3 linked regions of the Homo sapiens genome follow. The protein of the gene in region 1 interacts with the protein of each later gene in a biochemical or structural test. Each region holds a gene or a part of one and is shown in the gene's direction. Other genes may lie near its edges. The genes, in order: XKR7, ARHGEF11 and SNTG1.

Evidence for each region.
Region 2: the proteins of XKR7 (region 1) and ARHGEF11 interact in a test that uses a peptide from one of them, tested with the Homo sapiens proteins (one large-scale study listed by IntAct).
Region 3: the proteins of XKR7 (region 1) and SNTG1 interact in a test that uses a peptide from one of them, tested with the Homo sapiens proteins (one large-scale study listed by IntAct).

What each region holds. Positions count from the first base shown.
Region 1 is NC_000020.11:31,966,598-31,970,422, forward strand, and holds the start of XKR7 (XK-related protein 7), read left to right. Parts: upstream 1-1,553; 5' UTR 1,554-1,578; coding exon 1,579-2,162; intron 2,163-3,825.
Region 2 is NC_000001.11:156,937,743-156,941,242, reverse strand, and holds part of ARHGEF11 (rho guanine nucleotide exchange factor 11), read left to right. Parts: intron 1-169; exon of another isoform or gene 170-185; coding exon of another isoform or gene 186-188; intron 189-817; coding exon 818-1,036; intron 1,037-1,332; coding exon 1,333-1,695; intron 1,696-2,729; coding exon 2,730-2,825; intron 2,826-3,500. UniProt on the Homo sapiens protein: May play a role in the regulation of RhoA GTPase by guanine nucleotide-binding alpha-12 (GNA12) and alpha-13 (GNA13). Acts as guanine nucleotide exchange factor (GEF) for RhoA GTPase and may act as GTPase-activating protein (GAP) for GNA12 and GNA13.
Region 3 is NC_000008.11:50,701,907-50,705,631, forward strand, and holds part of SNTG1 (gamma-1-syntrophin), read left to right. Parts: intron 1-2,667; exon of another isoform or gene 2,668-2,693; coding exon 2,694-2,846; intron 2,847-3,725. UniProt on the Homo sapiens protein: Adapter protein that binds to and probably organizes the subcellular localization of a variety of proteins. May link various receptors to the actin cytoskeleton and the dystrophin glycoprotein complex.

The sequences.
Region 1 (3,825 bases):
TGCTGAGACCAAAACAGTCCCTGGGCATGAAAAGGATGCCAGGCTGCAGGACTGCAGTTGGCTTCTCCTTCCTGACCCAGGGCAGCTCTCTCCTTTCATCCTCTCTTCCCTGCCACTCTGAGGCAGGTTGGTTCTCCCACTTCCCTTCCTCAGCTCCTCTTTCTTCAACCCCTACCCTTTGCCCCTCCTCTCTCCCTCCCCTTGAAGGGTAGCAAAGCCTATTCTGGAGCCAGATGATGGGCATGAATTTGGCTGTAGCTACTAATTGTGTCACCCTGAACAAATTAATTTCTCTGTGACTTAGTTTCTGCATCTGTAAAATGGGAGGAAAAAAGGAGCTACCTCACAAATTGTGAGGGTAGAATGAGTTAGTAATTGTAGTGTTTTGGACAGTGCCAGGCAAAGAGACACTACTATATGGATGTTTGTATAATAAATGCCTGGATACATCCAATCTGATCAAAGGCAGAGATGGGAAATGAGCTTGGGGTATCCAGGATGTGTGGGAACTCCACCCCCTCTCATAGGTTACTGCTATAATCTCCTTCTGGTCTCACCAGCCCCAGGCTGCTTCCTTGTGATCGCTTCTCTACTCTGGCTGCTGGGTCTTCTTTCTAAATCCTGATGTGACCACATAACTCCCCTGCTCAAATACTGCAGTGGTTCCCCATTGCCTGCTGGATAAAGGCCACCTTCTGGCCCCTTAGGATCTCATCCTCAGAACTCTGCAGCCCTATCTTCCCCATCTTTCTCCTCCCCTGGATCTGAGATCCAGACTTGCTTGAAGATATGCCCTCCAGTCTCAGGCCTCCAGGCCTTTGCACTTGCTCTTTCCTCCACCCGGTGTTTCCTCCCATCCCTTTCCTCTTGATGTTGGATGTTGTCCCCTTCCCTCCCCCTACTCTACTAGGGCTGTAGCCAGATGAAGGCAGTCCCCGAGAGAGGGAAAGCGGAGAGTAAGGAAGAGACAGCAACTCAGAGCTGCAGCTTTCTCAGCTTCAAAACGAAGACAATAAGAAAAGGGGACCCCTCAAGATCAAAGGAGGGGATGGAACAATATGTGAGCACTCAGGAAACTGGAAATGAGCGTTAGCATGGAGTGACTGCTAAAGGGTTACTGGGGGGCCCGCCCAAGTCCCCCAGCTCCTTTCTTCCAAGTCCCCCACCCACCCCCCCGTCAGACCCAGGCCACTGGAGGTGAACACAGGAGAAAAACGAAGTGGAGAGAATGGGAAGGGGGAGGCGATAAACAAAAAAGAAGGAAGTGCAGTCCGAGGGGAGATGAGAGACAGAAAGCATGGGGTTGGAGCCCCGCGCCTCCGAGGAAGGAGGGAGAGGGTGACCTGGGGTGCGCCCCGCCTCCCCTGCTTCCGCATTCCCGGGGGCTGCCCCCCCTTCGGCCGCAGCTCAGGCGGGTGGGGGCGGGGCGGGGCGGCGCCGAGGAGAATGAATAATTGAAGTGGAGGGGAGGAGGAAGAAGAGGAGAAGGAGGAAGAGGAGCCGCCCGCGCAGGGTCCTCCCCACGCCGCACCCCCCTCCGCCGCCCGGAAGTCGCTCCCCGCCTCCCTCTCCGCCAACATGGCCGCGAAGTCGGATGGAGCGGCGGCCTCGGCCAGCCCGGACCCGGAGGGGGCTGCCGGTGGAGCCCGGGGCAGTGCCGGCGGGCGCGGGGAGGCGGCGGCGGCGGCCGGGCCCCCGGGGGTCGTCGGGGCGGGCGGCCCGGGGCCGCGCTACGAGCTGCGGGACTGCTGCTGGGTGCTGTGCGCGCTGCTCGTGTTCTTCTCCGACGGTGCCACGGACCTGTGGCTGGCGGCCTCCTACTACCTGCAGAATCAACACACCTACTTCAGCCTCACCTTGCTGTTCGTGCTCCTGCCCTCGCTGGTCGTGCAGTTACTGAGCTTCCGCTGGTTCGTCTACGACTACTCGGAGCCCGCAGGGTCCCCGGGACCCGCCGTCAGCACCAAGGACAGCGTAGCCGGCGGAGCCGCCATCAGCACCAAGGACAGCGCCGGCGCCTTCCGGACCAAAGAAGGCAGCCCCGAGCCGGGTCCCCAGCCTGCGCCCTCCTCGGCCAGCGCCTACCGCCGCCGCTGCTGCCGCCTCTGCATCTGGCTGCTGCAGACCCTCGTCCACCTCCTGCAGCTCGGCCAGGTCTGGAGGTAGGAGAAGCGCAGGTGGAGGGACCTGAGCCCGAGGAGTGGGGGTGGCGAAGGGCTACCTGACGTCCCAGCCCTGATCTGACCTTTCCGGGCTACCCTCCTGTCCTGACCTCCCCCCCTCCCCACCCCATTGCAGCTCTAATTTCTTCTCAGTCGGCTTCTCCCTGACCTCTGCCCCCAAGCCCTGACCAACCCCAGTGCCATCCGGTCTGACCTGGCCTTCGAGAGGGGAGGGGATGGTTCAAGAAAGGAGAGAAAGAGATCCTCAGGGGTGTGCGTGAGTGGGGAGGACCCGGGGCTCATGAAGATAAATGTGAAGCTTAAAACAGGACCACAGGGCCCTATTCTGCCATAACCCACTCCTCTCTGCCTGAGTGCCAAGCCTGGGCTCAGGAAAGATCTCAGAAGTCCTTTCCTGCTCGCAAAGATCCTCAGTTCAGAATTGCAGCTCATTCACAACCTGCAAGGAGAGTCACAGAATTTGAGACAGCTAAATGAATATCCCGCCTAAACTTCTTGGACTTTTTGGAGAAAGATATGCTGGACCCAACTGGGGAGCCCTCAGGCTCCTTCTACTTCCTATGACCCCCTCTCCCCCAGCTAAGGGTCCTCCCCTTCCAACAGGGCCAAGGGGATTTGGAATCTTGAATCTGAGATTAGATGGCCACTGGCTGCCCTTTAATCCCGAACTGGTAAGGCAAAACTGAGGCTTTGTTCAAGCTGCCCACTTTCAGTCTTCTTCCTCTGCCAGAACTGAGGGTGCCTGCTGCACTGAGTTAAGTGGAGAGAGGAGGAATTCTAAACCTAGGGCTCCTCTTGAATCTGAATTGCTATTTAGTAGCTTAGGCCCTTCTGTGCTCTAACAGAATGAACTTGCTTACTATATGATCTTAGGCAAGCCGCCCTCCTCCTTCCAAGCCTCAGTTTCCTCTTCTGTGAAATGAGGGAGAATCCCTACTCCTCTTATCTCATTGTCTTATCATTGCATTATTCTTACCTGTTGGGATGGTCAGGTGAGAGGTCTGCATGAGGGCCCTGCAGACTGTAACATTTTAAGAGTGTGGGGAAAGCATGGAAAAAGTCACTCTAGAGATATAAAGGGTGATTACTGCTGTTGTTATATTTATTCTGCTACTTGTTAACACATTCTGCCTAACTCAGAAGATTCAGTTTGGGGCTGAGGGTTGAAAACAGGACTCCTAGGGTTTGTCCCAGCTGCTCACTTGCTGTGTCACTCTTGTTGTGTTGTCGAATCTCTCTGCCTTTGTTTCCCTATCTATTCCTGCCAAGATGATGTGTATATTCCACTTAGCTTATCCTGGAGGAAAAGGGGGCGGAGCTCTATCCACACAAGGTGGTGTTATTATTATTAGCGTGACACATAAAAATATTCATGTCTACATCCAGGAACTAATCTGCATTTATCATTCTGTGCCCGAGTGGACAGATGGTGAAAGATATTTTTAGATTCTGAAATGGTAACTTCCTATTCTTGGTAGGAAGCTTCATCCCCCTTTTCCTTCAGCCTAAAGTGGGCCAGATGCCCCTCGACTCACTGGCTATCCCCCCATTCAGAATCCACTTACAAGAAACTAATACTTCTCTTCTTTGTTAAGCATAAACTGAGTTTCCCTCAAATAGGGCAAAAATGGCCATGGGTGTG
Region 2 (3,500 bases), on another chromosome or scaffold:
GAAGAAACAGGGCGGGAGGAAGAGTCTGGAAGAGGAAGGAGAGCAGACTGAACAGACTTAAGAAAGGGTGAACTCGCTCACCTGACCAGAAATTCCCACCCAGCCTCTCTGGGTGACGGCATCAGCTGTGGAAGAAGACGAGCAGTCTGGCGGGATCCACGGGCCCTGCATCCTCCAGCCAGGGGTTACTGTTGGGGAGGGAGATACATGCTGCAACAATGAGAATGGAAAACATGGCGGGGCTGGGGAGCTCAAAGGGCTTAAGATGCAGTTACTGTGATGGGATTGGTAGAGGGGACAGCATTCTCATTGAGAGCTTGCGTGAGAAATAACCTGGGGTCTTGGGTTTCAGGAGAAATCTCGGGTTTCCTGGCTGGGTCCCTGTTGTTTCCTTCTGCTTAGAATGCTTTTCCTCCTAACGCCACACCTCCTTCACGTCTTCATTCCAGTGTCCTCTTGGCCCAATCTGTTTAATACTGTAGCCAGCACTGTCCAGCCCCTAGCCCCATGCCCTGTTGTTGTTTTCTTCTTTCCGGTGGAAGTTACTGCCTTCTAACAAACTACATAATTGACTGAAGTGTCTTATTTTTGTATGTCCCTCCCCTAGAATGTAAGCTCAACATAGGCAGGGATCTTTTTGTTTTGCTTACTGTTGTATGCCAAGAGCCTGGGACAGTGCTGGCCATGGGAAGTTCTCAGTAAACAACTGTAGAATAAGTCAGTGTTCCCAGCCCCTTGGCTCCAAAGCTGCCCATAGGCTCTCCCATACGTGCCCTCTCCCTTTCCCTGCCTTACAATCTTCTCTCATCCGAAACAGGCACTGGGTCCCAGCAGAGGGTCCAAGGGAAGCACCAGGTCCTGCTAGAGGACCCTGAGCAGGAGGGCAGTGCAGAGGAAGAGGAACTGGGTGTCCTGCCTTGCCCTTCCACATCCCTGGATGGAGAGAACAGGGGCATCAGGACAAGGAACCCCATCCACTTGGCCTTCCCAGGCCCTCTGTTCATGGAAGGGCTCGCTGACTCCGCTCTGGAAGATGGTGAGTGCTTCAAGGCCCTGCCGTCAGCCCCTGGTCCCCAGTCGCACACCCAGTGTGAACTGGCAGGCGCCTGCACCCTCCACCTTCCCGAAGGCTCTTCCTGGTGTGCTTGAGGAGAGATGGATGCGGAGACAGATGTCATTCCCCACCCAACCCCCACCAGCTAGTTGGCCAGAGCCCTCCAGCTTCACCTGTGCCTGAGGTCACCACCTTGGGGTCAGTGGGGCAGTACAACGATCCTTCTGGCGTGGTGTGCAGTCCCATGCTGGGAAGACATCACCCTGTTTCCCCTCCAGTGGAGAACCTGCGACATCTGATCCTGTGGAGCCTGCTGCCAGGTCACACCATGGAAACTCAGGCTGCCCAGGAGCCCGAGGACGACCTGACACCCACACCTTCTGTCATCAGCGTCACCTCTCACCCCTGGGACCCAGGCTCCCCAGGGCAAGCACCCCCTGGGGGTGAAGGGGACAACACCCAGCTTGCAGGGCTGGAGGGGGAACGGCCAGAGCAGGAAGACATGGGTCTCTGTTCTCTGGAACACCTACCCCCAAGGACCAGAAATTCTGGGATATGGGAGTCTCCAGAACTGGACAGGAATCTGGCTGAAGATGCTTCAAGCACAGAGGCAGCAGGAGGTTACAAAGTTGTGAGAAAAGGTAAAATAAATGGGAGTGTCCAGTGGGGAGACAAGCACCCTTGCTAGGTGAGATAAGTCTTCCGAACAGCTGCTTCCTTCCCTATACTCCCCCTGGGTACCGTGTGAGCAGAGACCTACGCTGGGTCCTGGAAGAAGGAGACAACGCCGATATCAGGCAGGCTTTGGAGTTGGACATTCGAGATTCAGAGCTTAGCTCTGCCACTTAATATCTGTGTGGCTTTAGACAAAATTCTGAATCATCTCTGAACTTTGTTTTATAGCACATAAGGACATTTCTTTCTGCCTGGCACAAACCAACTACCAGTACCAGTCTCTGTTAGTGCTCCTCACTGATCTCCTGTTCCCAGGGAAAAGAGCCACTCTTCTCAGGAGCCTCAGGCCGGGAAAGACAGGGCAGGTGCATGCAGCCCCTCACGCCAGGCAACAGCTCCAAGGGCAGTAGAGGTGGCAGCTGGGACTGGAAGGGGTGGAGGACAAAGCTGGGAAGACATTTGGCGAGTGAGGGATGTGGGGAGTGAACAAGGTGGCAGGGAGGGCACCCCGGGTTGGGAAACACCATGGACGGCCTTGAGACAAGAAAAGCCAAGACAAGCTCACAGGGAGGCCAATAGATGAGCCCAGGGAGGAAGGTCCCCACCCCGGGAAGAGTGGGCTGGTCTGAGAGGGTGGCAAGAAAAGTAGAACAAAGCCTGGGGCACACATGGGATGGGGTTCCACGCTAGTGGGCCTGCCCTCCCCTGGGATTCCACTCTGCCTCCCTTCCAGCAGCATTTTTCATTCCATCTGCCCAAGGGCCACCTGTCTCCTGGGTTTCTGGGAACTGACCTTCCTTCTCTGTCTCTCGGTGAATTGGTGGAAAGTTCTCTGCACTGCCTGGGATGTCATCGTGTATGATCTTGTGTTCACCTTGTTCTTCCCATTTTCTCCTCCCCCTGTCCCCACCTCCTGCCCTCTCTCCTTCCTGTTCTCTCTCCCTTCCCTTTCCTTGTGTTTTGGTCTCTCCTCTTCCTGGTGGTGGTGGTGTCGGTGCAGCTGAGGTGGCAGGCAGCAAGGTTGTCCCTGCACTACCAGAGAGTGGCCAGTCAGAGCCTGGGCCACCTGAAGTGGAAGGCGGAACAAAGGCTACGGGTAATAACTTTCTCCTTGGAGCTAAAGACAGGCCAAGACTGGAGTGTGGAACCTGTGAGGGCAGAGTCGGACCCCTGCCCATGGTCACACACACACCCACAAGCTCCCTCAGCTGCCTGGAATGGGGAGGAGGAAGATCTGGCTCTAAAGACGGGGAGATCTGGTTCTAAAGGCTGGCTGTCCATCCAGCCTTAAGAAGCCACCTGTCCAGGCTCCTGTTCAGAATGGCAGGGATAAATGCCTGTGTGCAATTGTGGGAGGGGCAGGGAAGCCTGGCCTGGGGGTGGGGACCTAGTGTCCTTCACCTGATATGCAAGCAGCCACTTCCCCACCTCAGCCGCCGCTCCAGTGTCACTGTGGAAATCGGCTGAAAGAGCCTCCCAGATTCCGCGGTGGTTCTCTGTGCTTCCTGCCTGTCAGGAACCCTCCACGTCCTTCCTCCAGCTCTCTCTGACACCCCTTGGTTGGGTCAAGGGACCTCCAGAGGATCGTGGCATGGATGGAAGAGGGGCAGGGCAGGGCTGTAGTTCATCCAGAGCTGGAGTCAGGCAGGGCAAGAGGGCTGCTGCCTGCTCCTTTCAGAAGAGCCTGAAACCAGCTCACAATCTGTTTACTCAAGGAGGGGGAGCCACTCCAATTTCCCCAAATGAAACACTGCAGCTCTGCCACTTCTCC
Region 3 (3,725 bases), on another chromosome or scaffold:
GTGGCACAGTCTTGGCTCACTGCAACCTCCTCATCCTAGGTTCAAGTGATTCTCCTGCCTCAGACTCCCACGTAGCTGGAATTACAGGGATGCACCACCATGTCCGGCTAATTTTTGTATTTTTATTAGAAATGGGGTTTCACCATGTGGGACAGTCTGGTCTGGAACTCCCCAACCTCAAGTGATCTGCCCACCTCGGCCTCCCAAATTGCTGGGATTACTGACATGAGCCACTGCGCCCAGCCTCTTATTTTTTTTATAATGGCATTTACAATAATTTGTACTAATATATTTACTTGTGTAGTTATTATCTCTCATTGTTCCCTCCATAGATATTATAACCCCAAAACTACTAAAAAGTATTTATAATTTATCATTAGATTGTACTCTCAAACATATTATGTTTTCATTTTTTTCTCCCTTCAGACAGAGTAGGAAAATCAATAAGCACAGCATTTATCATCCTTTTAGCTTTCTGAGCATCTACTGGCAGCAAGGGTCAGAGCTAAATTCTACAACCCTGGAAGTAAATGCCTTCCATTAGCTCTCTTCCAGCAATTATAAGAATGCAAGCAGGAAACAATGAAAATAGTTATTATTTTTTAAACATTTGCCAAAGCAGAGAATTCCATCTAACATTTTGGGTGTTTAATAATGATACACTTACATCCCTCCTTATGAGAAATGATTACAGATACCAGTGATTAACCCTTTGACAATTTTCAGTACACTGCATAGATATAGCATATATACAGTCATTTAATAACTGAGATATATTTCAGGAAATGCCTCTCAGTTAGATGGTTCCACTGTTGTACAAACACCACAGAATTTGCTTGCACAACCTGAGACAGCATAACGTACTGCACAGCGAGGTTATACAGTACAGCCTATTTCTCCTAGGTTACACACCTGTATAGCATATGACTGTATTGAATACTGTAGGCAAAAGTAACATAATGGTAAGTAGTTGTTTAAACACATCTACACATAGAAAAAGTAAAGTAAAAGTACAGTCTAAAAGATTTAAAAAAAAAATGATACACAGATACAGGGCACTTACCATGAATGGAGTTTGCAGAATGGTAGTTGCTCTGGGTGAGTCAATGAATGAGTGATGAGTAAATGTGAAGGCCTAGGATGTTACTATACAGCACTATAGACTTTATAAATACTGAGCACTTAGACTACACTACATTTATAAGAAGTATTTTTTTCTGCAATAATAAACTAAGCTTAGCTTACTGTAACATTTTTTACTTTACAAAGTTAATTTTTTCAACTTTGGCCTTTTTTGTAGAAGTGCTTAGCTTAAAACACAAACACATTATGTAGCTGTACAAAATTATTCTATATCCTTATTCTCTACATTTTTTTTCTACTTTTAAATTTACAAATTACTTTTTTATTTTTGGCTTTTTAAAATTTTTATAAAAAATAAGACAGAAACACACACATTAACCTTGGCCTGCATATAGTCAGGATGAGTTCCATCATCACATCTTGTCCCACTGGAAGGTCTTCAGGGGCAATAACACGCATGGAGCTGTCATCTCTTATGATAATGATGCCGTCTTCTGGATACCTTCTGAAGGAACTGCTTGAGCCTGTTTTATAGTTAACTATATTTTTAATAAATAGAAGGAGTACACTAAAAAAATAGGAGTACAGTAAATACAGTAATATTTACTGTATTACTATAATACAGTAAATACATAAACCAGTAACATATTCTTTCTTATCATCATTATTATTATGTAGCATACATCATAATCGTATGTGCTAGACTTACACAGCTGTCAGCACAGCAGGTTTGTTTACACCAGCATGACCACAAACACAAGAGTAATGCATTGCTCTATGACATTACAACGGCTATGACATTGCTAGGGGATAGGAATTTTTCAGCTCCCTTATAACCTTATAGGATCACCGTCGCATATGCAGTTCATCATTAACCCAAACATCCTTATGCGGCACATGACTGTATTTAAAATGCTATATCTGACATGTTGCATTGGGTTACTCTGTTTCATAAATTATTTGCTTCACTTTTTTTTCTCATGTTAATGTCTCTTAAATTGGAATATATGTAAATTTGTGAACACTTCAGTTGAAAACTTCTGGTAAGACCAAGAAATTGCCAGCATCAAAGTCGTTTTTTTGATACAATGAAATACAGTTACACAAGTAAGGTAAATAATGCGTTTTTTTTTAAGCAATATTATTGCTGTAGACAAATTAGACTCATTTTCTTTTTCATTTCTCATGGAGAAGAATATTTTGGTTTGCTTATAAAGTTCCTTAAAATTTACAAACATGTTCACAAGCATTATTTAATTTCAACATCATAACAGTTATGTAAGGAAGGGAAGAGATAGTGTGTCACCCCTTTGTAGAGTAATAAACCAAGTCTTGTATGTTAAATGCTTTGGTGGTTATATTGTTAGTAAGAGATGAAGCCAGAAACCCTAACTTCTATTTTATGGACATGCTTCAGTGTAAAGACAGAGAAGTCATGTGTTGGGGCTTTGAAGCCCGGAGTTCTGGTATAATGTCTAATGAAGACTTGGTGAATTCGCAGAGTGTTGTCTTTTTACCTGTGGCTTCTGCACCTTGGTCCAGTCAGGAATGGCCAGGTTAGCAATGTGAAGTGATGTGTGCCAGCCTGTGTAACTCCAGGTTTTCACCAGGACAGTGACCTGCTGGACCGACGGAAACAGTGCTTCACCGTGCAGTCTGAGTCTGGGGAGGACCTGTACTTCTCAGTGGAGCTGGAAAGTGACCTCGCCCAGTGGGAAAGAGCCTTCCAGACAGCAACCTTTCTAGAAGTAGAACGGATACAGGTGAGAGTCTGTGGGACTGCAGGATGTGTGGCTCCCTCAGATGCATGACCACTTCCCTAGAGTTCTAATATCATTCCAAAGTAGTGTAAAAATACAGTTCTGGGAATCTTGACCTCATATACATTCTATAATTAGCCATTTTTGTTTAGTGACTAGTAATACAGCTCTGAATAAAATTTTAATTTTTCCACGACTTGATCTTTCCAGGCTATTTCCTACTACTAATTAAAAATATATTTCTAATTTTAATTAGACATTACTCTGACTTAAATCTAATATAGAAAATACTCTGATTTAATGAATTGTTGACAAGGTCACTTCCTGTTCTCCAAATATGACCTCCTAATTTCCAGCCTGTTGGCGTCATTTACTCACAATGCTCTTTCCCTTTGCCTCCATCCTTCAAAGCCACACAGAGTTTTTGAGACTTTTTATCAAAGGTCATATCATCCAGGAACATGTCCCTGATTTCCAGTCCACCCTGCCTAATGCTTGCCAATACTCCTTCTACAACTATCCTGTTCAAACAACTCTTCTTCTCACTTTTGAACACAATATAATGTACTTTTCTGGTTTTTTTACAGATAAGAAAACACAAACTAATCAATTGTATTCATACTACTCATGAAAAGCAATTACATTTTTACATGAAGTCATTAACACATACAACAATAAAAATCATAAAAGTAATACATCTGATTAGAAATACAATATAGGAAATAGATTTTAAAATAGTGTAGTTTAGTGATAAAATTTATACTGTGTTTTCTACTTATTTATAGCAGCATCTATAAGATTCTTCTATTTATTTGTCTTTTTTTTTTAAGGATTGCACACACTCAGTCTGTTTTGTATTGCAGTGACATGTGCTTGTTATTC